Linked DNA regions of Homo sapiens: region 2 is linked to region 1. The links come from fine-mapping of genetic effects on plasma protein levels. A gene starts in region 1. The other region holds a variant in brackets. All regions are shown on one strand. Distances are from middle to middle. Region 1 holds the start of RNASE6 (ribonuclease A family member 6). Region 2 holds the start of LOC124903282 (a long non-coding RNA gene).

Evidence for each region. PIP is the chance, under the fine-mapping model, that this variant and not a neighbour inherited with it causes the effect. Protein levels are from antibody-based Olink assays in UK Biobank. Linkage for the fine-mapping came from a reference panel and not from the study's own genotypes, which makes the PIPs less certain.
Region 2: its variant is fine-mapped to the plasma level of the RNASE6 protein (UK Biobank, PIP above 0.99).

The regions. Positions count from the first base shown.
Region 1 is chr14:20,775,109-20,787,823 of GRCh38, reverse strand. RNASE6 (ribonuclease A family member 6) reads right to left here and starts at 6,556. Exons shown (of 2, transcript NM_005615.5): 1 at 6,486-6,556; 2 at 5,357-6,129. The coding sequence starts at 6,124. The coding sequence ends at 5,672. All of the region lies in intron 1 of LOC107984671 (a long non-coding RNA gene), which reads left to right. RefSeq lists enhancers at 5,412-5,481, 12,286-12,715.
Region 2 is chr14:20,708,667-20,721,381 of GRCh38, reverse strand. LOC124903282 (a long non-coding RNA gene) reads left to right here and starts at 5,659. Exons shown (of 2, transcript XR_007064061.1): 1 at 5,659-8,301; 2 at 9,664-11,589. It also overlaps the pseudogene RANBP20P. The variant G/A (reference allele first, on the strand shown) is at 5,912.

The DNA.
Region 1 (12,715 bases):
CTGGAGTGCAGTGGCGCGATCTCGGCTCACTGCAAGCTCCGCCTCCCGGGTTCACGCCATTCTCCTGCCTCAGCCTCCCGAGTAGCTGGGAATACAGGCGCCCGCCATCACACCTGGCTTATTTTTTGTATTTTTAGTAGAGACGGGGTTTCACCGTGTTAGCCAGGATGGTCTCGATCTCCTGACCTCATGATCTACCCGCCTCGGCCTCCCAAAGTGCTGGGATTACAGGCGTGAGCCACCGCGCCCGGCTGAGAAGAGTTAAGAAGAATTACCAGAAAGGAATAAAATGGACCCCAATGTTTTTATATTTTATTTATTTTAAAATTTTAAGCAAATGAAACACTTAATATTTATTTCTTTTGCATGCCACTAGTATATTGTATTTATCTGGATTGTTTAATTTTTGAAAAGTAAATAATCCCATTAAAAATGAAGTGAACTCATGAGAGAGAGCAAGGGAAAAACTTGACGAAATCCATCAAGTATGAAGAGCCCCCAAAGACTTCCCATCCCCACGAGCTTCTGCTTCTCCTCCTTGCGAAGCTCTTTGGCTCTGCTATTGCCACCCCTACACCTGGGTTTTTGTGGGGTTTTTTGCAATCTTGACTCAAATGTGGACAAACACTTTCTTGTTTTTATTAGCACTGTCTAGATAAAATGGCATTTTCAAAAATAACTTTACAAATTAAAAAGATGACTTGAAGAAATATTCACAGTATCAAAAGAATCAATAAAATCAGTTTTAGATTGTATAATTTCTTTTCAGACGAAATTAATTAAAATATCCACCTAACTCACTAAGTACAGCTGTAAAAGTGGTTTAATGTTTTTACTGGTCCCACATCCTCCTGTCTTAAAATAAACTTTCCTCTATTCCTCAAGAGTACATTGTTATTCAATTTCTGTTTCCACACTGTGTGGTTAAAGAAAAAGTATTGAATTGTCTATCTAGCCCCTTTTCTCTGGGAACTATGACATCTCTAACCAGGGCTAACTCACCTGGAACCAGTCCTGGCCCCAAGACAACACTACAGACATGAGTCCTGAAGCTCCTTAGGGCTTCCTGTGCTGGAAGGAAGGGTTGAGGGTGGGAGAAAGCCCCAAAGGAGAGAAAGAGAATAGGATCCCATGCGGATCTCAGGCCAGGCACTACCAGCCTGGGCTGACTGCAGCCACTGATGAGAGACTTAGAAAATGTTGAGAAGGGTATTCCAAGATGCAACGGGGTGCCTGAGGAACAGGCGAGGCCAGAGACCCCATTTGGCCAGCCTTAAGGGCAGTTCTCTCTAAGCCTCTCTTCTGCATGGTCCACAAGAAAGGCTCCTGGAAGCTATTTTTTGCAATGTGATTCTGTCCGATGGTCATGTCTGATCTATGGATGGGATCAGTCAGAATCCCTTCAAAAATAAATAATATTTCAGAGAAAATTAGAAAGTGAGATGGAAAGGGATGACTGTCTACTTACTGTGTGAAAAAGAAAAGCAGAGGAAATGAGTACATTGCAGAAAAAGACTGAAACAGGGCACAGAAAGGAATATTAAGAATTCATTACGGTCGGGCGCGGTGGCTCACTCCTGGAATCCCAGCACTTTGGAAGGTCGAGGCGGGCGGATCACGAGGTCAGGAGATCGAGACGATCCTGGCCAACATGGTGAAACCCGGTCCCTACTAAAAATACAAAAAATTAGCCGGGCGTGGTGGCGGGCGCCTGTAGTCCCAGCTACTGGGGAGGCTGAGGCAGGAGAATGGCGGGAACCCGGGAGGCGGAGCTTGCAGTGAGCCCAGATCGCGCCACTGCACTCCAGCCTGGGCGACAGAGCGAGACTCCGTCTCAAAAAAAAAAAAAAAAAAAAAAAAAAAAAAAAAAATCATTACTTTCCTGAGGCCCCAGTTCAAAATTCTCAGCCTGCCAGGTGTCGTCCTTCCTACTGAATTCCAGCCACCTGCCTCAGCCACAGCCAAAGGACAAGATCCATTGAATAGTCTAGAAGACCAGGAATCAACACACTTTGTTCTATAAAGGACCAGACAGTAAATATTTCACTTTTGTGGAACACATAGGGTCTGTGTCACTTCCTCTCCTTCTTCTTCCTCTTCTTCCCCTTCCTTCCCCTCCCTCACGTCTCTACTCCTTCCTTCTTCCTGTTCTTCCCCCCCTCCTCTTCCTCCTCCTTTTTCTTCTCCCCCTAAAAAAGTAAAAATCGGCCAAGCACGGTGGCTCACGCCTGTAATCCCAGCACTTTGGGAGGCCGAGGCGGGTGGATCACGAAGTCAGGAGATCAAGACCACGGTGAAACCCCGTCTCTACTAAAAATACAGAAAATTAGCCGGGCGTGGTGGCGGGCGCCTGTAGTCCCAGATACTCGGGAGGCTGAGGCAGGAGAATGGCGTGAACCCGGCAGGCAGAGCTTGCAGTGAACTGAGATCGCGCCACTGCACTCCAACCTGGGCGACAGAATGAGACTCCGTCTCAAAAAACAAACAAACAAACAAACAAACAAACAAACAAATTAGCTGGGCGTGGTGGCGGGTAATCCCAGCTACTCAGGCGGCTGAGGCAGGAGAATCGCTTGAATCCAGGAGGTGGAGGTTGCAGTGAGCCGAGATCCAGCCATTGCACTCCAGCCTGGGCGGCAGAGCCAAACTCCATCTCAAAAAAAAAAATAAAAGTAAAAACCACACTACTCCAGGCAGTATAAAATAGGCGCGGCAGGCCAGAGGTCTGCAGATGTAGTTTGCTTACCCCTGCATCAACAGTTGTTACCAATATTTGCTGCCCATTACAATTACATGGGGATCTTTAACAAACATCCATTAGAGCCCAGGTCTCACCCCCAGATATTCATTTAATTGTTCATTAAATGTTCATAAAATTTATTTAGTAGATCCCGTCATTGGTATTTTTCTAAAAGCTCCCAGGTGAATCTAATATGAAGCCAGAGTTGAGAGCTGCTAGAACATCTGCTGAATTCACTTCTAAGCTTTGCCTGCTTTGGGATCATTCTGTATATTCTAGGGATATATCTAAGTGAACTTCTTAGCAATTATGTATTGAACTTCTGCAATACATAACTGCATGTAGAAAAGAAAATAAATCTATGAGAGATTCCATCCCAGTCTATTCCACTTGTTTAGAACTAATACCTTCTAAAAGTTTGGGCATAATAGATTGTTGAAAAGTTACCCTCATTGTTGCCTTTTCCTTGATCAGCAACAAAAAGTGACTCTAATTGTTGTTGGGGATAGGTTTGTCATGGGAGGGTGGGGAAGATTAGATATTGTTGCTGCAAATCTCTTCAAAAGATGGCACTCATTATATTTTTGTTTTTAACCATTTGTTACAAAATATTTGCAGTATTTTAGACCTCACAATTTATTTCACTAATTTTAAGTAACATTTCATGTTCCCTAATGTTTCTGACAGTTGAAAAATTTTTGCAGCACAGATGTATTCAATCCATGAGATACCTTTACTATATAAATAACAATAGCATGAGCAATTGAGTTGTTTGGTTTTACTAGATTACCTTTAAGAATCTCTGGCAATTTCCAGGTAATGTTCATATAAATCCATTCAACCCCTTTCCTTTCAGATGCTGCTACTTTCGTATACTTGTTCATACCAAACGTGAGCACAGATTCTCCCTGCCATTCCACCACACTTTACATGAAGACTCTGAGACAATAAAATGTAAATGCAACATGGCTTAAAGCTGAATACAACTGAAAGCTGCTTTGAGTTAGAGCACTCAAGTCCCACTGTAGGATTCCCTCTATAAGGTACCCACCTTCTTAGGTGCCATATTGCCCTGACCTGCTAATCTCTTCCCAATGGGAGGGCCCTTGATCAGTCATCACCCTGGAATCCAGGCTCCTGAAACCTCATATTCCATTCTTTGTTCCTAAGATATGACATAAATGTGTAGCGTAAAGGAAGGTGAGCTGAGTTAGCATATCTATTAAACTAATAGTCTGGCTTGGAAAGAATCATTTGCAGCACAGGTAATGAAGACACTACAATATGTAGCCTTTTCAAAAAAACTTCATTGTCTTTGGCTGCTACTTGAAGACTCATCACTGTACAAAGCACTTGGGATTTACACTGGCCCACTAGCCCAATGACTCTAGAGGTTGACAAGGAAACTGAAGTTCCTTCTGTGAAATGGCTTAGTTCAGGTTCTGTTCCAAAACCCCAATACTTCTGTGGTATTTCAGTATTTACATAGGACTAGAATGTTTTTAGTTTCCTAGTGCTTTTTTCTCTTTCTTTCTTTCCTTTTTTTTTTTTTTTTTTTGAGACGGGAGTTTCGCTCTGTCACCCAGGCTGGAGTGCAGTGGTGCAATCTCGGCTCACTACAGCCTCTGCCTCCCAGGTTCAAGCGATTCTCTTGCCTCAGGCTCCTGATTAGCTGGGATTACAGGCTCCTGCCATCATGTCTGGCTAATTTTTTGTATTTTTAGTAGAGATGGGGTTTCACCACATTGGCCAGGCTGGTCTCAAACTCTTGGCCTCAAGTCGTCTGCCTGCCTCGGCCTCCCAAAGTGCTGGGATTACTGGTGTGAGCCACTGCATTGGGTCTCCTGGTGCTTTTCTCTTTTTCTTTTTTTGTTTTTGAGATGGGAGTCTCACTCTGTTGCCCAGGCTGGAGTGCAGTGACACAATATTTGCTCACTGCAACTTCTACCTCCTGGGTTCAAGCGATTCTCCTGCCTCAGCCTCCCGAGTAGCTGGGATTACAGGCACTGCCACCACGCCCAGCTACTTTTTTTGTATCTTTAGTAGAGATAGCGTTTCACCATGTTGGCCAGGCTGGTCTTGAACTCCTGACCTCAGACGATCCACCTGCCTCAGCCTCCTAAAGTGCTGGGATTACAGGCGTGAGCCACCACGACAAGCCTAGTGCTTTTTTCTTGATCTATGCTTTCTATTTATCCATTTCAATAAATAATGGAGGATTGACCCTAAGGTTACTACAATGGATTATTATCCCTATTACTACTACTATCACCTTATATTTAAAACATTATCTGATTAAAAACGGAAACAAATAGAAAAGACATAGGATCCTTCAGTTGCCAGTGACAGAATCTATGTGTGAGTTATCATCAACTGTCTTTGAGGTATCAGTACTACCTCCAATTAAGCATAGACAATGGTTTCCAGGGGAATATATAAAGTCATGAGCAGAGTTTGAAGAAATGCTCCAAAGTCCCAAACGCTGTCCTTTCTTGTGGGCAAGGAAGTGGGGCCCCAGGGAGGCCTCAAAAGTTTTCTAGGGACTTAAAGTCAAAACAGTGTTCCTCTGAGTACCGGTCAACAATGCTTTGAAAGCGGATCTCAAACACACACTCATTAGAATGCAGCAGGAAGTGGTTTTATTGCTGTGAACACAGGGCAATAAAGCTTGGCAAAAGTTGCAGGGTTAGAAATCTGAATCTTTCTTTGCTGTCTTCCCTATTCCCTTCTCTCGAAAAGTACAGAACTACAAAGCAGAAAATAATCTTATTTCTTTTTGTCTCAACTCTGGTCTGGCATCCTAGGCACTCGAATTCTCCAAACACCTTTCTTCTTTCTTCTACGGGAACAAGAAAATCAACAAAAGAAAAGAAAACATGGATGCAATTGTAACAGAAGCTATGTCAAATGAAAGGAAATGCAGTGGATGCCTTAGAGAATACTATCTAAGTGTACAGGAACCAACTTGTAGGGGGGATCGCTCTTCTGAGGGGGGTCACAGGCAACAATGAAGAATTTGTACTGGGCAGCAGCACTATAGCGGCACTGGGGATACTTTCCTGAAGTGAGTCTGCAGTCAGTCATGTTGACAGGCTTTGAGCTCTGGTGGCAGTTGTGCCGACGATTTTTGCAGACAATGCTGAGCAAATCACAGACAGCAGCCACATTCTGGAAAGAGTCATGCAGAAAGGTATTTTGATGCTTACAGTGCTGGGTATAATTGTTGATGCCACTCATTGCCCTGTTGCATTGGAGAGGACTTGGCTGTATATGCTGAATTTCAAACCAGTGAGCCTTGGTGAGACGCTTAGGCCAAGCATGAAGTGGACACACTGGTCCCCATAGAACCAGCAGCAGTAAAAGAAGAGGAAAGCATAGCACCATCTTTTCTGTGTAGAAAGAGAGAAGATAGTTATAGTAGGAGAAGCAATAAGAGCAAAATTTTTAATCATAACTATTTAGATTTTTATTTTGCCTTTTAAGATTTTACAGCTCCCTTTAAAATCTTCTTTCTCACATAGTCTCACAATTCTATGAAGAACCTGAAGCCCAGGAAACAGAAATATGACCTCTCCTTTGATTGGCATATCCCATTTTCTTTCACAAGTACTCATGCATTTGATGGCTGTCATATCAGAAAGTTTCTTCCCTCTTCCCTCCTGAAATATTTACCCTCTATCTGACCACTACCTCCCAGCCGTCTTTACTGCTCTACTCGCTCCAGCCCTGAGGCTTTCTTTCTTACCTGGTCTCAGTGTTGGGGCTCCTGCTGAGAACAGAGGCTGTGATTAGTCCAAAGCTCAGAAGCTGTTGTCTGCCTTTCTTCTCTAACCCTTCGAGCCCTGTGTGTATAGGGAAGGGGAAGAAATATTCTGAGCTTTCAGAAGGAGAATCCTAGGGTTTGGCAGATTAACTTCTTGTGCAGAGTCTGGATTAAACTCTTAGACTTTCACACCTGTTCTTTAAAACAGTATCATTATCACATGTATACAGGAAGGCTAAACCAACTTAAAGAAACAACATGACTGAAAACTCACAGTTTTGAGGAACTGATCACTTCCTGATATGGAATGAGTGCTTCCTGCCTCATCTGAGGCTTCAGTGTTTTTTTTTGAAGCTTTATGATTCCTGTTTCTTAAGAGAAAATATGTCACATAAATATGATATAATGCCTGCCACATACTTGGTAATGTTGTAAGTTCCTACAACAGAAGTGAATACATTATTCATTTATGCATATACTTATTGGGCCAGGTACTAGGCTACACAAATTCAGGAGCTCATGAGTTTTTTTTTTTTTTTTTTTTGAGACGGAGTCTTGCTCTGTCGCCCAGGCTGGAGTGCAGTGGTGCGATCTTTGCTCACTGCAAGCTCCACCTCCTGGGTTCATGCCATTCTCCTGCCTCAGCCTCCCGAGTAGCTGGGACTACAGGTGCCTGCCATCACGCCCAGCTAATTTTTTTGTATTTTTAGTAGAGACGGGGTTTCACTGTGTTAGCCAGGATGGTCTCTATCTCCTGACCTCGTGATCTGCCAGGAGCTCATGATTTAATGAAAGAGATTAGAGACAGGCAGGTAAGTATATAGACAAGTAGATTATATTAATATAAATAGCACTTACAGTGTGATGGAGGACACTGCAGGAGGCTACGGGAAGATAGTAGAGGGGAAGGATTGTTGGAGGGCACAACACCTGAACTGAATTTTGAGGAATAATTAGAAGTTAGGTGAAGAGAGTGTTAAGCGCCTCCCAAAGACAGAATTGTGTATGAAAAGACCTGTAAGCCTGAAGAAGAAGGCCGAATTTAGGATATTTGCCTCTTGAATCTGTTCTTACCTTTTCACTGGTACTGCAACACCCTTATTCAGAAACTCATTGTCTTATGGAGGGCTCACATAAAAGCCTCCCACATGGACTCCTTGCCTTGTTTTTTTCTCCTTCCAATCCATTCTACATATTACTTCCAGATTAGTCTTTTTTTGAACAAGATATAATAGTACAACACTCTTGCCCCATGCTTTTATGGCTCCAAATGTCTGCAGAATAAACATAATGTCTGTTTATAGCAAGGTTGCAGGATACAAGGTTAATATACAAAAGTCAGTTGCTTTCTTATATACCAGCAATGAACAATTGCAATTTGATATTTAAAACACAATACCATTTATATTGCACCAAAGAAAGTGAAATACTTAGGTGTAAATCTAATACATTATGTAAAAATTGGTATGAGGAAAAATTTAAAACTCTAATGAAAGAAATTGAGGAAGCACAGATATTCCATGTACATGAGTAGGAATACTCAATATGTTAAGATGTCATTTCCTCTCAACTTGATCTATAGATTCAGCACAATCTCAATCAATATCCCAGCACATTATTTTGTGGATAGTGACAAACTGACTCTGAAGTTTATATAAAAGTAAAAGATTCAGGTTGGACACGGTGGCTCACGCCTGTAATCCCAGCACTTTGGGAGGCCGAGGCAGGCTGATCACGAGGTCAAGAGATCAAGACCATCCTGGCTAACACAGTGAAACCCCGTTTCTACTAAAAATACAAAAAATTAGCCAGGCCTGGTGGCGGGCGCCTATAGTACCAGCTACTTGGGAGGCTGAGGCACGAGAATCGCTTGAACCCGGGAGGTGGAGCTTGCAGTGAGCCGAGATCGCACCACTGCACTCCAGCCTGGGTGACAGAGCGAGACTCTGTCTCAAAAAAAAAAAAGATTCAGAATAGTCAACACAATGCAGAAAAAGAAGAACAAAGTCAGAAAACTGACGTGACCCAACTTCAAAACTTACTATAAAGCTACAGCAATTAAGACAGTGTGTTATTGGTGAAAAATAGACAAATAGGTCAATGGAACCAAGTAGAAAGCCCAGAGGTAGACCCACACAAATACAGTGAACTAATCTGTGACAAAGGATCAATTTTCAATTGAGAAAAGTTAGTCTTTTCAACAAATGGTAGTAGAACTGAATGTACACATGCAAAAAATAAATCTTTTCATAGGTTAGACTTCATACATTTTCATAGACCTGTACTTTATATCTTTCACAATTTTTTTTTGAGATGGAGTTTCGCTTTTGTTGCCCAGGCTGGAGTGCAATGGCATGATCTTAGCTCACCACAACCTCTGCCGCTCAGGTTCAAGTGATTCTCCTGCCTCAGCCTCCGGAGTAGTTGGGATTACAGGCATGCACCACTACACCCAGCTAATTTTGTATTTTTAGTAGAGACAGGGTTTCACCATGTTGGTGAGGCTGGCCTCGAACTCCTGACCTCAGGTGATCCGCCCACCTCGGCCTCCCAAAGTGCTGGGATTACAGGCGTGAGCCACCGCGCCTGGCACAAATGTTAATTCAAAATGGACCATAGACCTAATGCAAAATACAAAACTACAAAAATTCTAGAAAATAACATAGAAGAAAATCTAGGCAGCCTTGAGTTTGGCAATGATTTTTTAGATACAATACCAAAAGCACAATCCATGAAAGAAAAATATTGATAAGTGGAACTTCATTAAAATTGAAAACTTCTGCTCTGCAACAGATACTATTAAGAGAATAAAAAGATAAGCCAGAGACTGAGAGAAGATATTTGCAAAAGATATATCTGATAAAAGAACATTATCCAAAATATACAAAGAACTCAAAAAACCTCAACCATAAGAAAACCAACAACCTAGTTGAAAAATGGGCAAAACATCTGAATGGTATGGGGCAAAGACAATTTTTCCTCTCCCTCTGAAGGTTCAAAACTTCTGAAATGAACTGACAATAGACAGATTAACAGGAGAAAAAGGCATACAAATTTATTACTGTGCATAATCATGGGAACCATACAAATTATGAGACTCAAAGAAAGACTAAATAGTTGAAATTCATGTATTCTCTTCATAGGGGAGAGGAACATGGGGAAAATGTAGGCAATTTTGAGGAGTTTTAAATATTTTTTAGGGAACTGGCCCCAAATAGCAGACAATAGTTTGTAAATGAGTCTCTTTGGAAGCTGAATGGAAGGGTGACGAGTTATGGGAAGGTGAAGGGTGGAACTGCACTATGAACAAAGGTTGCCTTATTATACAGATAAAGTCTCTTAGGTACTCTTTTGGAGCTGCTCTTGGAAGAATAGATGAAAGGTCTATCTGAGTGTGGTGTGAAGAGACTTCTAGTCTCTTCTTTTTTTCAGGTGGCTAATATTTCCTGGTTATCTGATGAGATTTTTAGAAAGGGGGGTCTTAAGACAATTGCATTTCTTGGAAGAAGTTTTCCTTATCCAGACAAGGGAACTTCCAGAGAGAGCTCCTCTCTGCATTTGAGAGCTGGGGGAGGAATGAGAGAAGATTAGAACATCTTTGGTCCTGAGGCAGCTTCTAAGAAGTTTTGGTTTCTTTAATTCTTTAATTCTAGTTAAATTTAATTCTTTAATTTAATTTCTTTAATTCAAAAGTGCTCAGAATGCCATGCATCATAGTTTGTAGTATGATTCTCTGTACCCCAACACTTCACCAAACAAGATATACAGATGGCAGATGAGCAATGAAAAGATGTTCAGCATCACATTGTTTGGAGAAAAACTTTTCCTCTATCATTTTAGGTTTTAAAGGTGGTGGTAAAGGAGCTTGTGAATTAGAAAAAGATTAATAGGAGAAAATTCAAAGTTTATTTACACATGCACACAGGAGTATTACATAATGCGTAACTTGCTGAATAGCCAGAGGTAAAGTTATATATCAACTTTAAAAAAAGTGTTTTTGGCCAAGTGCAGTGGCTCATGCCTGTAATCCTAACATTCTGGGAGACTGAGGCAGGAGGATCACTTGAGGCATGGAGTTTGAAACCAACAGCATAGCAAGACCCCCATCTCTATTTTTTAAAAAAAGATTTGGCCGGGCATGGTGGCTCACACCTGTAATCCCAGCACTTTGGGAGGCCAATGTGGGCAGATCACCTGAGGTCAGGAGTTTGAGACCATCCTGGCCAACATGGTAAAACCCCGTCTCTACTAAAAATACAAAATTTAGTCAGGCATGGTGGTGGGCACCTGTAATCCCAGCTACTCGGGAGGCCGAGGCAGGAGAATCTCTTGAACCTGGCAGGCGGAGGTTGCAGTGAGACAAGGTTGCGCCACTGCACTCCAGCCTGGGCAACAAGAGTGAAAGTCTGTCTCAAAAATAAAATAAAATAAAAAATAAAAGATTTTTGTTGGGGCTTCAAAAGGAAAATATGGAAGGTTCTAGTAAGCTTTCTGATGCTAATAGAAATGGGTAGATTGATTTCTTCCTGGCTGGAAGTTTCCCTGTATGGGGGTTTATGGAAGCTAATTTACACATCCCAGTGCTAAGGGGCTGTCTCGTTTCAAACAGGAAAATACCTTTGAAGGGGATCAATGGCAGCTGAATTTTCAAGAGGCTCTGGTTAAGTTTAAATAGTGTTTCTTTCTGCAGCTTCTGTCTGTTCAGACATTTTCAGTTTAAAATAATTTTCATGCCACTATCATCATAACAGATTTGTTACTTGATGCACAACAAATGGATATATTAAGAAAACAGGGATTGAAAAAGAGAGAGTTTAATTTTCATAGGGCAGCCAAATGAGTAGATGGGAGGTAACCTACAATTTGGTTTTGGGTTTGGGGATAGGGTTTTTAAGGAGTCTGGACAAGGGCCAAAATGTGAGCATTTCTGATTCATCAAGAAGTGAGAGGTGAAGTCATGGGACAGGGACATGAAGAAACTCAGCATTCATGTGCCAAGCCAGTTCCTTGGTAGGGGTCTTTAGACTGGTTAGCATTAGCTGTTGCACTGGAATTCAGGATCAGAAAAACACCTTAAGCAATTCTTAAGCAAAAAGATTTCATGATTCTAGTATTGGAGATTCTACCTATAGGAACAATCGGGGAGTAGGTGGTCAGCATGCTACTTGGGAAATTAGAAGCTACAGGGAAGTGGGTTGAAGTGTACCAGCATGCTATGATTAATGTGCAATTCTGCCTAGAGCCTGGCTTGCAACACTCCATAACTCTGCAAGGGCAGTTTTGCCATATTGGTGGGCTGTGAATCCCTTCAATCTGTCATTAGAAAATTGCAAATTAAAACAATGGGATAATACTACACACCTACATGAATGACTAAAATGCAGTGAAAACTGACATCATCAAAGCCAGTAAGGATGCAGAGCAGCAAAAATGCTAATTGACAGGACTTTCAACCTGGAGGCATATTTTGGGGTGACATATTCTTGTTTCCTATGAGACTTCAGTTAGGCTAGCTTGGATCTCATAACCATCGCTTGGCTCAGTAGAGGGGACTGCAGACCTTAGTGGACAGCCTCACCAATACTACACACAAAAGAGGAAGGGTAGATACCTAAGGAGAGTCAATATGCAGCTATCCAAATAAGGGGTGGACCACCGGGAAAGCCAGAGAAACAACACAAAGCTATTACTAATTGCCCTTAAATCTACTTTCCTCCTATACTATTTTGAACAACCATCTGCTAACCCTTTAATAAAAGCAAGTTTTAAAGAGTTACTTAAATGAGGTATTTGTGAGAATCTACTATAGGAGACCAGAATATGCCACCCCAAAATATGCTTCTTTATTATGAATATTATTTTGAACTGCTTATTTTGAGAAGCAGTATACACAAGACAAACTCTGAAAATAGAGTGCACGTTGCTGTTTTGTAAGGGACATTTGCGTTTATAAGGGAAATCTTCATTTGTAAGGATGTCTCCCTTTCTTCACCAGAAAGAGAAAGGTGACTCTAAATCAAAAGAAACCCTTATCAGCGGAGAAGGTACTGACTTAAATCTGCATGAGAAAGCTTTCCCTTGTTTACTGTACTTTTCCTGGTCATCCCCCTGTAAGTTGCTCCCCGACATGCTTCTTCCTTTGCTTTAGCGGAAGGCATTTAAGCCCAAGTTCTAGCCACCTCTTTGAGTTGCTTTCTGAATTTCTCTCATGT
Region 2 (12,715 bases), 66 kb after region 1:
ACAGTTGTGGAGAGTTTGGTCAAAGTCACTCTGTATGGATCTCAGATAAAGTTGTACAACATTGAGCCAGGTGCGGTGGCTCACGCCTGTAATCCCAGCACTTTGGGAGGCCGAGGTGTGTGGATCACAAGGTCAGGAGACTGAGACCATCCTGGATAACATGGTGAAACCCTGTCTCTACTAAAAACACAAAAAATTAGGTGGGCACGGTGGCACGTGCCTGTAGTCCCAGCTATTCGGGAGGCTGAGGCAGGAGAATCACTTCAACCAGGGAGGGAGAGGTTGCAGTGAGCTGAGAACGTGCCACTGCACTCCAGCCTGGGCAAGAGAGCAAGACTCCGTCTCAAAAAAGAAAAAAAAAAATTGTGCAACATTGAAACTGATGTGCCATCAGTATTGAAACCTGACCTCATTGATGTACGTGCTCAGTCCCTGGCTGTGCTGCAGGCTTACACTCACTGGTTAGTGCAGTATTGCAGTGAAGCTCACCAGCAGAACACACAGCAGTTCGTGACACTCATCCCTATTACCATGAATGCAATCACACCTCTAATCAGCACCAAGTTCTCGAAGCAGCAAAGCCTACCGTCTACACCTTTTATCTAACTCTGTCTCTCCTTCTGTTCCTATACCCATTTATTAGAAAATCTAAATATGACACAGAGTTAGACCCATAAATCTTTCCGCTTTATAAAACTGTTATTTCATCTTCCTTTTTACTTGTAGCCCACATGCATTCAAATACAACTTTACTTTTTTGGTTATATAAGTTCCACATGCTCACTGTGAAAAACCAAAATATTGTTCAGATTTCCAGACTAAAAAGTTGTGATACCTTTGAAACATTTTCCTTCAGGCGGTACACACAGTTGGGCATTGGTTGTGCAGGCACACCTCGTTTTGTTGTGTTTCCCTTTATAGCACTTCGTAGATACTGTGTTTTTTACAAGTTGAAGGCTTATGGCAACCCTGCATTGAGCAAATCTGTCAGCGCCATTTTTTCAACAGCATTTAGTGCTTCCATGTGTCACATTTTGGTAATTATTAGAATATTTCAAACTTCTTCTATGACTATATCTGACAGTAATTTGTGGTTAGTGATCTTTGATGTTACTATTGTAATTATTTTGGGGTGCCACAAACTGAAGATGGCAAACTTGATTGATAAATGTGTGTGTTCTGACTGCTCCACTGATTGGCGGCTTCCCCACCTTCCTGTCTTTAGGACTCCCTATTCCCTGAGCCATTTAGTAACCCTACAATGACCTCTATGTGTTCAAGTGAAAGGAAGAGTCACATGTCTCTTACTTTAAAAATCTAGAAATGATTAAGCTTAGTGAGGAAGGCGTGTCAAAAGCTAGGATAGGCCAAATGCTGTTGAGCCAGTTAGTCAAGTTGCGAATGCAAAGGAAAAGTTCTTGAAGGAGATTAAAAGTTCTGCTCTAGTGAACACACAAGTGATAAGAAAGCAGAACAGCCTTATTGTTGTTGACACGGGGAAAATTTCAGTGGTTCGGATAGACCAAACCAGCCACAACATTCTCTTATGCCAAAGTCAAAACCAGATCAGGCCCTTCAATTCTCTGAAAGCTGAGAGAGGTGAGGAAGCTACAGAAGAAAAGTTGTAAGCCAACACAGGTTGGTTCGTGAGGTTTAAGGAAAGAAGCCATCTCCATAACATAAAAGTGCAGGATGAAGCAGCAAGTCCTGAGGAGAAGCTGCAGCAAGTTCTCCAGAAGCTCTAGATAAGATCATTGATGAAGGTGGCCACACTAAACAACAGATTTTCAGTGTAGATGAGACAGCTTTATAGTGGAAGAAGGTGCCATCTGGGACTCCCATAGCTAGAGAGGAGGAGTCAGTGCCTGGTTTCAGAGCTTCAGAGGGCAGGCCAACTCTCTTGTCAGGGGGCACCTGCCACTGGAGACTTCAGGTTGAAGCCAGTGCTCATGTATCATTTGAAAATCCTAGGGCCCTTAGGAATTATGCTGAATCTACTTTGCCTGTCTCTATAAATGGAACAACAAAGCCTGATTGACAGCACATCTGTTTACATCATGGTTTACTGAATATTTTAAGCTCATTATTGAGACCTGCTCAGAAAAAAAAGATTCCTTTCAAAATACTACTGCTGATTGGCAATGCACTTGGTTACCTAAGGCCTCTGATGGAGATGTTCAAAGATATTAATTTCCATAGTTTCCATGCCTGCTCACACAACATCCGTTCTGCAGTTCTGCAGCCCATGGATCAAGGAGTAATTTTGGCTTTCAAGTCTTATTACTTCAGAAATACATTTCATAAGACTATAGCGGTCATAGATAGTGGTTCCTCCAATGGATCTGGGCAAATAAATTGAAAATATTAATTCAAATAATGGAACTCATTTCACTGCACATATCATTAAGAAATTAGCCCAAGCACTAGACATAACGTGGGAATACCATACTCCTTGGCACCCACCTTCATCGGGAAGAGTAGAAAGAATAAATCAAACCGTGAAGAGTCACTTAACCAAATTAGTCTTAAAGACTCAGTTGCCATGGACTAAATGCCTTCCCATTGCCTTGCTAGGAATCTGAACCACCCCTCAAAAAGATGTTGGCCTATCCCCATATGAGATGCTATATGGGTTGCCCTATTTACACTCCACTGCTGACATTTCCACCTTCGAAACAAAAGATCAGTTTCTCAGACATTATATACTTGGTTTATCTTCCACTTTCTCTTCCCTTAGAACTAAAGGTCTTTTAGCACAGGCACCATCCCTGGAGTTCCCAGTACATCGAAATCAGCCCGGGGATCAAGTCCTCATCAAAAACTAGAAGGAGGAAAAGCTGGAACTGGCCTGGGAAGGACCTTATCTAGTGCTCCTAACTACTGAAAGCGCAGTCCAGACAGCAGAAAAAGGATGGACCTATCACACCCAAGTCAAGAAAGTGCCGCCCCCTCCAGAGTCGTGGGCCATAGTCCCAGGGGAAAACCCTACCAAACTAAAGCTAAGAAATTTTTTTTTTTTTTGAGACAGAGTCTTGCTCTGTTGCCCAGGCTGGAGTGCAGTGGTGCGATCTTCACTCACTGCAACCTCCACCTCCCGGGTTCGAGCAATTCTCCCGCCTCAGCCTTCCGAGTAGCTGGGATTACAGGCGTGTACCACTACGCCTGTATAATTTTTGTACTTTTAGTAGAGATGGGGTTTCACCATGTTGGCCAGGCTGGTCTTGAACTCCTGACCTCAAACGATCCACCTGTCTCGACCTCCCAAAGTGCTGGGATTACAGGCGTGAGCCAAGCTAAGAAAAATTTAACTCTCTTATTACTCCTTCTTCTTTCCTCATTCTATTGCTGACCACCTCATTATTAATGTAACAAAGTCAATTTCACCTCAAACTATTACATTTGATGCTTGCCTTGTTATACCTTGTGGAGACTTGTCAAGTTAAAGACAGCTCTCCAATTCAGAAAAGTACCTCTGTCCTTCCCGGCTCTCCTCAGACTGGACATTAGTGAATGGGGATCATTTAGTCTGGAGAGATTTCAATAAAGACCCCAGTATCAGCTGGGAGTCTTGCTCCTGCAAGACAGAGCTTTTATGCCACAGTTGGTCCAACATTCTGTGGACCACTAAAGAGCAAGGATGAGCTGCCCCAACCAGTGGTTGTAATTTCCTAAAGTCATATATTCACTTTACTAAAGGAACAGCTTCACCTAGCTGTCAGCTGAACCGTGCAATCCAATACAGGTTATTATCTCAAACCCTCAAAGCTCTTCCCCTTCTCTAAGCCGGTTCCCTTCTTTAAGCCGGTTTTATGGTGTGGGGGCTGAGGTTTCAGGAACAGACCCTATCAGATCCTTTGAAACACAATTCATTGATCCTCTGCCGCCTACACCTTCCCTTAAGCCTTCTTCCAGAAGCTCTCACAACAAAACTGTTGTTCTCCTCCATCTAATGACAAGACCAAGGTAGTTATTATAGAAGTTAAAGACCTAAAACAAACTTTGGCAATTGAGACAGAATATCAAGATGCTAATGCCTGGTTGGAGTGGATCAAACATTCCATCCACACTTTAAACAAAAGCATTTGTTATGCTTGTGCGCACGGCAGACCAGAAGCCCAGATTGTCCCCTTTCCATTAGGATAGTCCTTTAGTCTACTAGGCATGGGCTGTATGGTTACTTTTTTCCAGGATTACACAGCCTGGGGTAAAAAGTCGTGTCAAGCTCTCTCTGCTATATCCTGAGGTTCAATACCCTGCAGGTCAGCCCCCAAGGTCCACTCAGCTTCTGTCCCCTGACGCTAAGTTCACTTCATATCTCTCACTACAGGGAGGAAACTTAGCATTCCTTGGAGACCTAAAAAGATGCAGTGAGCTTAAGACTTTCCAAGAGCTTACCAATCAGTCAGCCCTTGTTCATCCCCAAGCATATGTATGGTGGTATTGTGGTGGACCTTTACTGGACTCTCTGCCAAGTAACTGGAGCAGCACTTGTGCTCTAGTTTAATTGGCTATCCCTTCCACCCTAGCATTTCATCAACCAGAGAGAGGAAAAATACAACATCATAAAACAAGGGAAGCTCCTTATGGGTCTTTCAACTCCCACATTTATTTAGATGCAATTGGAGTCCCATGAGGAGTACCAGATAAATTTAAAGATCAAGATTAAATAGCTGCAGGATTTGAGTCAAGATTAAATAGCTGCAGGATTTTGTGGGTGACAATTAATAAAAACATAGATTGGATAAATTACGTCTATTATAATTAGCAGTGGTTTATTAATTACACCAGGGATGCTGTCAAAGGGATAGCAGAACAATTGGGGCCCACTAGCCAGATGGCCTGGGAAAACAGAATGGCCCTAGATGTGATATTAGCTGAAAAAGGCAGTGTTGGTGTTATGATTAAAACTCAGGGCTGTACCTTTATCCCAAGCAACACTGCCCCCACTGGGAGCATAACAAGGGTCTTACAAGGACTTACTGCTTTATCCAATGAATTAGTTAAAGATTCTGGAGTCAATAACCCTTTCTCAGGATGGCTAGAAAGGTGGTTCAGTAGATGGAAAAGATCATAGCCTCGATTCTTACTTCTCTTGCAGCCGTAATAGGTGTACTCATTCTTGTTGGGTATTGTGTCATACCATGCGTCCGTGGGGCAGTGCAAAGAAACAGCACCTACTAAAACCTCCCTTAACTTTCCTCCACCTTATTCAGAAAAGCTTTCTTCTTTTAGAGGATCAAGTCAAGCAGCAAAGCCAAGACATGTTAAAAAGGTTTGAAGAGGAAGGCCTATGAAAATTGAAAGGGGGGAGATTGTAGGATACAGTAAATTCCTCTTCAGAGTTAGCCTGTTAACTTCCTTTAAAATTCAAGATGGTGGCTGGGCGTGGTGGCTCATGCCTGTAATCCCAGCACTTTGGGAGGCCAAGGCAGGCAGAACATGAGGTCAGGAGATTGAGACCATCCTGGCTAACATGGTGAAACCCTGTCTCTACTAAAAAATACAAAAAAATCAGCCGGGCGTGGTGGCGGGTGCCTGTAATCCCAGCTACTCAGGAGGCTGAGGCAGGAGAATGGCGTGAACCCAGGAGGCGGAGCTTGCAGTGAGCCTAGATTGCACCACTGCACTCCAGCCTGGGTGACAGAGCAAGACTCCATCTCAAAAAAAAAAAAAAATTCAAGAGGGAGAAAAAAATCATTTAAGTACAATGAGTTCTGAGTTCCTCTTCAAAGAACAAATACGTCAGTATGTTCAGCTTCCCTGTTCTTTGTTCTCCATTTTGAAGTTTAACTTCCTTGTTCTTTACACCTCCTTGCCTCTAGTTTCAGTAAACAACCCCCTCCTAGCCTCTATCACCTGTTCTGTCCTTAGGCATCCTTACTCTCCTGTTCTGTAACTGTCCTTCCCTGAT[G/A]AAACTACTCACCCCACCACTCCAGCTCATACACTCACTCTCTTTAAAATTTCCAACTGGAATTAGCTTAGACTGTGTGGTCCAACCCTAGCCAACAGGGGAAAGACACAGCAGTAGGGACTAGCTGCATTAGGAATAAGACGCCCTTCTCCTCCCTTGTCTGGTGTGCTCTCACCATTGCTCCATCTGAGAGATGCACCCTTCTATAGAAGTAAATTGCTTTGCTGAGAAAATTTTTGCCTGAGTGCTATTTTCACTCTGTGGCACCGAGCACTTACTTCCAACAGTTTGGTTACATTTTTTATCACCCAGCATGGGGCTATATGTCTCTACTGGTCTAGCGTGCCTGGTTTCCGATGGATGGAGCAATTGGCTGTGGCATCATGCCAGGGCTTACTCATTCATGCTACCAGGCAGAGCAACAACTTCTCATGAGGATTAGCTGCTCGTGGCTAGCTGACCTCCCAGCTGGGATTCTAGGGTTGTCCCAGCAGCTGCCAAGAACATCTTTTCCCTCCTTCCCCCTCTGTGGCATCAGCTGCCTGCAATGCTTTATTAGTATAAGGAAAATGATAGTTGAGGAAGTTGACAGGATTCAAGACTGGGTAAATCAAACCAGTTTGCATGCTAGAAATCCTCTGTCTCTGCCATTTGGGCTTTATGCCATTTGGACCTGACACAGGTCTTTTGCAGTATCAGTTAGCCTAAGATTTATTAACTTCCCAGTCTCCTTCTACAGGAATTGGTTCAGGAGTACTCTGTGTTGATCTGTGTGTTTGTGTTCTTTTGATCTCTCCCCTGAGAATGGGCAACTTGACTTCCATTCCATCTAAGTGGCCATTGGGCTGTATATTGGCTTATTGGAAAGCTTATAGCTATGAACTCATAACAAAAAAGATAATGATTTTTTTTCATTGTAACACTGTTTGGCCTATGTATGTGTTGGAATCTGAAAAATGGTGGCTACTGAACAGTGATTTACATTAGTACACCTTATTACAGTTGGCGTTATTTTGCCTAAGATCTGGGAAATGAAATGAGATTCCATGTGTTTAAGCATTTATTACATAACAAAGACTCAGCACATGAGGGGTCTATGTGAATGACGTAGAGAAAAGGGAAAAAGAGATTTCTCTTTCCAGATAGTAAGACCCAAAAGGAAGAGGATATTGATGATATGGGCCTCATAAATATCTTAAATTTCCCCTCCCATGTGGTACTGGGGGCACCAGCCCTCCCAGGATTACCAAATGTAGCCCAGGACCCGGAGAGGCCAAGGTGTCAGCTCCTCTCCCCAGGATGGGGAAGGAATAGAAATGGCTGCTCCACTTGCAGATTTTACTTGGGACCCCAACAATGGAGGAATGGCCCTGTCCAGTCATTATAAAAAGCATGTGTTGGCAGGGTTAAAGAGAAGAATGTAAAAGAGCTTAAATAAAGCCAGGGCAGTTCTCCCAAAGGCAGATGAGAACCCCTGTGAATTTCTGGAGTGCATTTACCAGGTTTACCACAAGTGTATGGACTATGATCCAGAAGCTCCTGAGAATATGAGAATGGTAAACGTGACTTTCATCCAATATTAAACGAAAACTGCAGAAACTGGAGGGGGTATTTGGAATAAACCTTTCCCAACTGCTGGACATTGCCTTCAGAGTATATAATGCCAGGAAGGCCAAAAAGCTAAAGCAAGCCATGATATACTTGGAATTAGTGGAAAGAATGTATATCCGAAAAGGAAAAACCAGGCACAGGGAGGTGGCCAGAACAAAACTCTAGGTAATGATCAGTCTGCCCCCTGCAAGGAGGAAGGTCATTGGAAATCTGAGTGCCCCAAATTAAAGAAAAGACAGGGAAACCAGAAGAAGGGAGACACAGTGACAGAGAAGAAACATACTGGCTGATGGTAAAGCAGGACTGTAGCTCAGATAGTGAAGGAGGCCCAAATCTTTTGGAGCAGGTTGTAATTTCCCCACAGGAACCTCAGGTACGATTGACAATGGGGAACAAATTGATTGACTTTTTAATCAATACTGGTGTGACTTATTCAGGTAGAAACACTAAAGAAACTGAAAGTACTAGGAAAACAGTGCCTGTGATGGTTGTCGCTGGCAAGATGCAGCAAACAGCCTTTCTCCAGACCCTGGAGAGTCTGGAGACTGCCGGACACAGAGATCTGGAGCTGAGACACAGTTTCCTCTATATGCTGGAATACCAAATTCCTTTGCTGGAGTGAGATTTGCTTTGTAAACTAAATTGCCATGTGACGTTTTTCTCCAGAAAAACAACAACTTCATCTGCAGGTCCTGCCAGAGCAAGCTTTGCAGCTGCAGATGCTGCTCACACACCCCGAGGAAGAAAAAGAATGCCTCCTGCCAGCAATCTGTGAGCAAGTAAGTAGTCATGAGGGCAGATGGGACCACAGGTAGTGCTGAAAATACACAGCCTGTGTGCACAGAAATAAATGAAGGGGCTAAGGTATTCCCCAAACACAGTGCCCTCTAAAAAGAGAGGCTTTAGAGGGGATACAACCTATATTACAGAAGTTTCTAAAAAATGGACAAATATGTCCTTACAGATCTCCATACAATGCCCCTATCCTGACTGTTAAAAACCCACACTCAAATGAATATTGATTTGTACAAGATTTGGGAACCATTAATGACATTGTTCAAGACATTCACCCAACTATGCCCATCCTTTACACCTTACTAACTGATAAACCAGGGCAGTATGGGTAGTTTTCGGTATTAGACTTAAAAGATACTTTTTTTTTTTTTTTTTTTTTTGCATCCTGATTGAAGAGAGGGACCAGATGCTGTTCACCTTTGAGTGGCAAGACCTGGAAACAAAAAACACCTTCCAATATTGTTAGGCTGTATTTTCTTAAGGTTTTAAAAACTCACCCACCATCTTTGGCAAAATATTGGCAAAGGGCTTCAGAGATTTTCAACTAGATGATGGGGTTCTGCTAAAATACTTGGATGACTTGTTAATCGCAAGCCAAGACTATGAGAGGTGCCTATCTAACACTATCTTAATCTTAAATTATTTGATATAATACGGACGTAACATATCACCTCAGAAAACTCAGATTTGTAAACAAGAAGTGACCTATCTTGGCTTCTGACTAAAAACAAGGAAAGCAGAGCTTGATGTCCAACCAGAAACAGGTGATAGCAGCAATAAAGGCCCCTGGGAATGGAAGACACTGTGGGGGGTTTTAGGTGTGGCAGGTTTCTGCTGAATCTGAATCCCTAATTTTGGACTCATAGTCAAACCTCTCTACAAGGCTCTAAAGGGATTAGATTCAGGAGCCCTAAACTGGATGGCTGAATGCCTTCAGGCATTTGATACCATCAAAAAAAAAAAAAAAAATAGTGTCAGCTCCAGCATTAGGACTGCCCAATTCTTGAAAGCTATTTAGACTCTATATCCATGAAAACCAGGGCACAGGACAGGAAATACTAATTCAACTACGTGGGAATTCCCCACAACCCATAGCCTACTTTCCCAAACAACTGGAGCAGATTACCAGAGGATGGCCACCTTGTCTTCAGGCCGTGGCAGCTACGTGTGATATCTTACAGGAAGCAGAAAAATTCACCCTAGGACAGCCCATTACTGCATTTGTGCCTTATCAAGTGTTAACCTTATTGTAACAAAAGGGAGGTTACTGGATGATAGCGGGGCATATGGGCAAATACCAAGCCAGCCTATTAGATAACAGAAATGTTTTCTCCAAACCACCACAGTCTTGAATCCTGCCACCTTGCTCCCAGCCACTGAGTCCAACTATGAACTGGAGCATAATTGTTTAGAAATTCTTGATGCAGTCTATTCCAGCAGACCAGATCTGTCAGATCATCTGATGGCCACTCCGGACTGGGAGCTATACACTGACTGAAGCAGTTTCACAGAAGGAGGACAACGCCAGGCCAGGTATGCTCCAGTGACCCTAGACAAAGTAGTAGAAGCCTATGTCCCCGCTGCTGGTACTTCAGCACAAAAAGCTGAATGGATTGCTCTCATCAGGGCCTTAAAACAGTCTCAAGAGAAATGGGTAAACATTTACACCTACTCCAAGTATGCCTTCTTGGTAGTGTATGCCCGTGGGGTCATTCAGAAAGAAAGGGGATTCTTAACCTCAAGAAATAAAGACATTAAACACCTGCTGGAAATTTTAGCTTTGTCAGAGGCAGTTGTTCTGCCAACTCAAGTTGCTATTATGCACTGCCAAGGCCACCAAAAGGATGACTCCCCAATAACCAAAGGGAATCAAGTGGCTGATAAAGCTGCAAAGCAGGCCACTCAAGAAACATATTTACTTGGGACCTTAATACTCCATTTAAACTTGTCAGAATTTAAACTCCACTACACTGAATGAAATGAAGAATGCACACATGAGTGGACATTGACCAACACAGACCCTTGTTCCTCATGGAAAGCTAACACTCATGGGATATTACTCTCTGAGGCCCTGGTATACCCAGTCCTGAAAGACCTGCATGAGGGGACACACTATGGCAGAGATGGACTGGCTCACCTGGTGTAGCCATATCTCAAAGGGCCACACCTTCAAAAGATCATTCAAAAGATTATACAAGCATGTTATCTATATACCCCAAATGATTCAAGAACTGCATGCAACTCTTCCCAGAGGAGGATACAATACAAAGGAATATGACCATTCGAGGACTGGCAGGTTGATTTCACCCAGATGCCAAAAACACTGGGATTTATAAGTACCTACTAGTGTTTGTAGACACATTTTCTGGAAAGGTTGAAGCTTACCCGAGCAAGAGATTGAAGCCTATCCGAACAAGTCTGAGAAAGCTGCAGAAGTAGCTAAGGCTCTGCTAAAAGAAATCATTCCTCGATTTGGACTTCCTTACTCCATACCAAGCAACAATAATCCTTCTTTAATTTCTGAGATCACACAAAGGATAAGCCAAGCATTACAGATCAAATGGAAATGACACTCTTGTTGGAGGCCACAATCAACTGGAAAGACTGAAAAGATGATCCACATGCTAAAAAACAAAAACAAAAACAAAAACAAAACAAAACAAACAAACAAAAAAACCAAAAAAAACCCCTGGCAAAACTCTATCGGGAAACAGATTTAAAATGGTAAAGGGTTTTACCTATTGCCCTGCTATGGATTGGGGTAGCACCCTGAAGTGGGCTTAAATTAAGCCTTTTTGAAATTGTGTGTGGGAGACCCTTCTGAAGTTCTTGGCCAGGGACCCCACCCTTGGACTTAATAAATTAATCAAGAATTAAACAATATGTACAACAACTAAGACATAAATCACTAACCCTGCACAAGTTTGTTCTTTTTGTTCTTTCCAGTTTTATGTGTCTTACAAAAAAGCCCCTTCACCCTTTTCATCCAAGGATAAAGTGCCGCTAAAATCTTGGTAAAAACAAGGACTGGACCAACAACAGCCAGCCAAAAAGTGGACAGGTCATTATGATGTTTTATTAACTACTCATTCATCTGTTAAGCTGGCTGGAGTCAAACCACGCATACATCACATTTCGGTAAAAATCGCCCCTCCCCAACCTGACACAGCAGACAATCAACCTGGTTGGACTTGTGAGCCAACTGGAGAACTGAAGCTACTGCTTAAGAAAAATCTTTTTGTACTATAGGATTAAATTTCTGTTATTCTTTATCATAATGAGTAAACTTTTTTGACATCTGCTAAAACTAGTCTATTTCTACAGTGGGCATAACATTATGCAGATAGTCTACACTAAGATGCTTGCTGGGTATGTGGATTGCTACCCATCTCTAGCACTTCTGGGCTACTTTAGTGAGTATCACCCCTGCAGGGGACTGATTAGATACATTTACAAACGTATATGAAAAACTGTTCATGGGAAAATCAGGACCTTGGTAACTTAAGGTAATATTTTTTAAAAATGGCCTGGCATTAATATAACGCTTCAGAATCCAGATCCTGGAAAACTCTTCATTATAACCGGACTATCCAAAGGACCTCTGAGTATGCAATCCCTCTCTTAAAGGAGTTTTCCTAGATGGCCCCCAAGATTTTGGCTACTAATAACCATTACACGGTAGGTGAGTTTTTATCAAATTTGGGACGATTACCTCTGGATGATCTCCACTATTAGTCACTTAACCCAAATTGCCACTTCATGTTGGGAACAAAGGAATCACTCTTAGAATCATTGGCCGAATGTTACTAAAAATGTGGATAGGATGCCTCTACATCAATATGAACATTCTTTAGTGCTATATTAGACAAACCTGTTTACCACTGATTGGACACAGACCCAAAATTTGGTGGCTGGTCCCCAGTGGAACTCAATAGTTATGTGAAACTAATCTTCGGCCATGTCTACCTGATGGATGGATAGGGCAGTGCACGTTAGGACCCCCATAGGTCCGGGGCTGATTAACAAAAACCACCAGGCAGCCTGCACACTTTCCAGATGTGTTACACCAATGGACCAGGCCGGTTTTCCCTTCCTACGACCATCTCCTGTCCCTTGTTTTCCCCCAAGCAGGCTTAGAAAGCATCATCTGGCATATTGAGGCACTTACAAATTATAGCAAGTGCTGAAAGACACATTTAAGGGCATCTCATTAGTAACCTCTGAAATGACTATGATGGGAAAAGTAGTCTTGCAAAACCACATGGCCCTTGATGTACTCACAGCTGCTGGGAGGGACCTTGACCCATAATTGAAACTAAATGTTTTGTGTATATCCTAGGTAATTTGCGAAACATCTCCTTAGCCCTTCAAGACGTGCACAGACAAATCAATGCTATG